Linked DNA regions of Homo sapiens: region 1 is linked to region 2. Evidence: fine-mapped expression QTL. Tissue or cell type: sun-exposed skin. Region 2 holds a variant in brackets; the other region holds the start of a gene. All regions are shown on one strand. Distances are from middle to middle.

What was found. PIP is the estimated chance that this variant, and not a neighbour inherited with it, causes the effect.
Region 1: it holds the start of DNAH8, and the variant in region 2 is the best candidate, but not a certain one, in a credible set for the expression of DNAH8 in sun-exposed skin (GTEx, PIP 0.86).

What each region holds. Positions count from the first base shown.
Region 1 is chr6:38,713,886-38,716,385 of GRCh38, reverse strand. DNAH8 (dynein axonemal heavy chain 8) reads right to left here and starts at 1,075. Exons shown (of 93, transcript NM_001206927.2): 1 at 971-1,075. It overlaps DNAH8-DT (DNAH8 divergent transcript), which reads left to right and starts at 1,171. Exons shown (of 2, transcript NR_186581.1): 1 at 1,171-1,320; 2 at 2,088-2,216. RefSeq lists a silencer at 1,039-1,088.
Region 2 is chr6:38,839,687-38,842,186 of GRCh38, reverse strand. All of the region lies in intron 33 of DNAH8 (dynein axonemal heavy chain 8), which reads right to left. Among named protein-coding and RNA genes, the nearest start is that of DNAH8-AS1, 110 kb to the left of the region's middle. The variant G/A (reference allele first, on the strand shown) is at 1,113.

The sequences.
Region 1 (2,500 bases), 130 kb after region 2:
GTAAATTCAGTGATGAGACTTTTGGGCTAGAGGGGAATGAGAAGGGTAGAGGAACGGGAAATAAGCCGGAGGGAGAGGCATTTTTTTTGTTTTATTTTTGAATTTTTAAAAATATATAGGTATATGGCCGGGCGTGGTGGCTCATGCCTGTAATCCCAGCACTTTGGGAGGCCGAGGTGGGCGGATCACAAGGTCAGGAGATCGAGACCATCTTGGCTAACACTGTGAAACCCCGTCTCCACTGAAAATACCAAAAAAAATTAGCCGGGCGTGATGGCGGGTGCCTGTAGCCCCAGCTACTCGGGAGGCTGAGGCAGGAGAATGGCTTGAACCAGGGAGGCAGAAATTGCAGTGAGCCGAGATCGCACCACTGCACTCCAGCCTGGGCGGCAGAGTGAGACTCCGTCTCAAAAAAAAAAAAAAAATATATATATATATATATATATATATATATATATATTTATTTATTTATTTATTTATTTTAATAGCTTTTCGGGTACAGGTGGTTTTTTTACATGGATGCATTGGATAGTGGTGAAGTCTGAGACTTCAGGGTCATCCAGGTAGCATACATTGCAAGCGATATGTAGTTGTTTCATCCCTCACCCCCCTCCCACCCTTCCCCTTCTGAGTCTCCGAAGTCCACTATACCCCTCTGGATGCCTTTGCGTAGCAATAGCTTAGCTCCTACTCATAGGTGAGAACGTGCGGTATTTGGTTTTCTAGTCTCAAAACGGGGAGTGGGTGTGAAGTCACTTAGATGTCCAGTGTAGAGACTGACAAAGGGTAGTGACTCAGCTGGGGTTTTGAAGCAGGGGTTCCCTGGGTTCAACTAACAGAGGTGGAGGACTGAACTGTAGCGTGGATTCCAGTCCCCTAAAAAGAAGGAAAGTGGGCGGGGAACCCGGCTGCATCAGGGCCTCCCGGACAGGGGCCGGGCGCTCACAGCGCGCTCCGACCAAGTACTCACCAGCCGCTCTCTGGGCCCCGATGCCCCGACCACTCAGCCCACTGAGGCCGGCCCCAGCGGTTGCGCTGCCCCGGGGGAGCTGCTCCGGCCTCCGCGGCCCGGAACGAGGCTGACGGTTGGGAGTCCGAGACAGGCTCGCTCGGGGGCGAGGGCTCCGCAGTGCGCAGCTCCCTACGGGGAGCGACTGGAGGGGCACGGGCAGCCCCCGCGCTCCCCAATAAAGGATGCACCCACCGAGCCCGAGGACTGAAACATTGTTTAGGGGACCCCAGGCACTGAAGGGCGGGTTCCTGGAGATGGACATTTGGAGTGCGGTGCCAGGGGCTTGGGAGGATTCCCGCGTATACGTGGTAATACGGAAATATATAAAATAATGTTTTCTATGACCTTTACAGTTTCTGAAGTTACTTAGTGTTTTCCTTGAGAACCTAAAAAGTGTTTCCTGGTGAGTCAGTGTGTTCAGAAACCTGTGACTGATGAGAGAGAAAGATTCTGGGGGAAAACTGACTTCTCTCCCAAGTCCACCCCCTCCCCTCTCTAGTACGGTTCTGCTTTTGCTGTGACTGCCTGACATGATGTGAGCGGTCCGTTTTTAGTTGGGTGTGTTAACCAAAGAAAAAAAAATCAGTCATTTAAATAATTAATATTAGTTTTATTCAGATGTCTTACTAAGGATTGCAATCCGGAGAGTCTTTCAGAGACTTTCTGTGAGACTGCTCCAAAGCTTAGGTACAGGTGGTGGCATGTGATGGGAAGTGGCATCAGATGTGCTCAGCAGTTACATCAAATGAGCTCAGCAGTTACATTAGAGCAAAATCTCATCAAGGGTGGGGTTCAAGGGTACATCTGGTTATAGATTGTAGAGGCATAATCATTAATCCTATCAGCTATTATCTTATTATGTACAGGAAGAGGCATGAGTTAGGATCCTGGAACTTTTGCAAGAAAAGATTCATGCAAGAGATGTTATCATCTTCAGGGGCATTCTTCCAGGGGCTGCACTTAGTCACTGAGTTAGGGGATTTGTGAAATGTAGCTGCCAAAGAATTCTCTGACATTCTGCTGGCAAGCAGAATGAGCAAATATAGCTTCTTACATAAACTATTTTGTCTTACAGGTGTGAAAGTCAGTCTTTGAATGTAGAGCAGATCAATGTGGAATGAGGACTGAAAGGTCTGTCAACTGAAAAAAAAAACAAGAATGAATATAAAAAATCACAAATTAAATAAACCATGGTCCATCCATATTAATAGACATTACTCAGTGATTATACAATATAAGCTTATGGGAGCAAGGGAGTTCCTGAATATCCTTGCTGACTGTGCCGAAATGCAAGACCTACCTACCCTCTAACTCTGAGCCACTTCCTTAACCAATCTTTAGGCAACTCAGCAGGCCACAGCAACCACGGCACGAAAAGGCACAATTGCTCACTTCCTGGGGAGAGGGACTAGCTTGTTTACTGCTCGATACAAAAGATACTGAGCACTTAGCCCTAGATTCTTTACCTGCCTCCCAGTCCACTGCCTG
Region 2 (2,500 bases):
AAGGCCAAGTTTACTGCTCCCAAATATTCCAAGTCAGACTATAACTTGACATTAGCAAATGGTTTATTCTGTAAAGAAAAAAAATCTTGCTACTTTTTAATGAGAAACTTACTATACCAATCATTGCAAACAATGTGACCAAAACTTAATGATAAGGTCATAGCTGCGGCTAAGGTTTCATTTGACTTTTTTTTCTTTCAAATACAAGCTGGATTTTATGAGAACATTTCCCTTGACTAAGCCCTGATCTGCCTTTAAGATTGAGCTTAAACACCCTATTCCTACCAGAAGTTTTCCCTCATGTGGCCAGGTGTGGTGGCATGTGACTGTAGTCCCAGCTACTTGGGAGGCTGATGTGAAAGGACTGCTTGAGCCCAGGAGTTCAAGGATGCAGTGAGCTATGATTGCACCACTGCACTCCAGCCTGGGCAACAGAACAAGATCCTATCCAAAAAAAAAAATCCCACATGTGCCCAGATGAAGTTACTGTGTTTAAAACAAGAATAAAAGGTCCAAGTAAAGGAAAATTCTTAAATGTGTAAAACACCAAATTGACCACTCAACAGAATTTGTGGATTCTCCCAGAAATTCCTCAGCCCTTAGTATGCCATAAGGTTCTACTGGATTCAGTTTTAGTTTTCAAGTTTATTTATAAGGATTGACATTCACAACTTTTATTCTTCATCAGAGATACTTCAAAAACCAAAAATAAATTTTGTAATGAAGTAAAAGTCGTTCTATCTTTTTATTTTATTTTATTTTATTTTTGAGAGAGAATCTCACTCTGTTGCCCAGGCTGGAGTGCAGTGGCACGATCTCGGCTCACCATAACCTCTGCCTCCTGGGTTCAAGCAATTCCCCTGCCTCAGCCTCCCGAGTAGCTGAGATTACAGGCAGATGCCACCACGCCCGGCTAATTTTTGTATTTTTAGTAGAGATGAGGTCTCATCATGTTAGCTAGGCTGGTCTTGAACTCCTGATCTCAGGTGATCGGCCCGCCTCAGCCTCCCTAAGTGCTGGGATTATAGGCATGAGCTACGGCACCCAGCCCATTCTATCTTGTAATTACCATGTAGGCGTAGTAGATTTTACAAATCTAAGACACATTCTGC[G/A]ATCTTAGTTGTCCTATTTTTTCAATTCTTGATTCATTTTTCATCATTCTTAGAATTATTTCATTACCACTTATTATTATTCTCAACTATGCTAAAAATGACTAAAAAAAATAAGAAAAGAGAATGATGACATTGCCTAAAGGGTAATGCAACAGTGAAAAAAAAATGACTACTGCATCATCCTCCAGGCTTCTTACTGTATAACATAAAGTATTGCAAAATCTTTCAAAAAAGTATATAAAAAGAATGCCAGAGACACCATTTTTGTTGTCTTTTGATTTTTGCTTGTTTAATACAGTTGCTTTCATTTAATACAGTTAAGAATTCAGAATTTTTCATTTTCTACCTAAAAGGGTAAAGAGAAGAAAATTGACAAAGAAATGTGTTTCCCAAGTATTAAACAGGAAAGAGAAAGCAGCATTCCCTTTTGATGGTGAAATTGATTAATATGTGAAATCTCATACTATGTCTTCAGATGATCATAACCTAGATGAATTTTATAAAATCCAGTAATTTATAAGTAAACAATATATTTCCGTAGACTTCAATAGAAATAAGGGCCTTATCATGCAATATTTTGCAACAAGAACCTAAACTATTCCATTTTGTGAAAAAGATAAGTGACAGTGTTCCTTCATTATTTATATTTACATAAGTTGTATTTGATACATTTCATAAGTGGACAAATGTTGAAGTCAGATGTGTATTCAAGGAAATAGATGATTTAGAAATTTAAAATTTCTTGGAATTGATCATTCAAATCTAAAAGTAAAGTCTTCAATATTTATGAAGCAAAACAGATGACAGTCTTCTCTTAAAAAAATGATGACTGTCCGAGTTTTCAACAGCTTTGAGTCTTGACAATGCAAGTGCAAGAAAAGTCAGAATTAATGATAAGCCACAGATCCATTGGAGATGATTTAAAATATGAAATCCATATTTACAGCATGGATATGCTCCAGGTTCACACATGACAGCCGATGAGGAGTTAGTCTCATTCAGTGCTGGTCCCCATTTTGTATATATACATCTTCAAACTAGGATATTACAGAATAAAAGTTTGAGTTTACTCTGCTTAAATTATTATTAAATCTTCTAATAAAAGTGCTTCTTCACCGGACATGGTGGCCCACACCTGTAATCCCAGCACTTTGGGAGGCCAAGGCAGGCAGATCATCTGAGGTCAGGAGTTTGAGACCAGCCTGACCAACATGATGAAACCCCGTCTCTACTAAAAATATAAAATTAGCCGGGCATGGTGGCACATGCCTATAATCCCAGCTACTCGGGAGGCCGAGGCAGGCGAATCACTTGAACCCAGCAGGTGGAGGTTGCTGTGAGCCGAGATCATGTCATTGCACTCCAGCCTGGGCAACAAGAGTGAAACT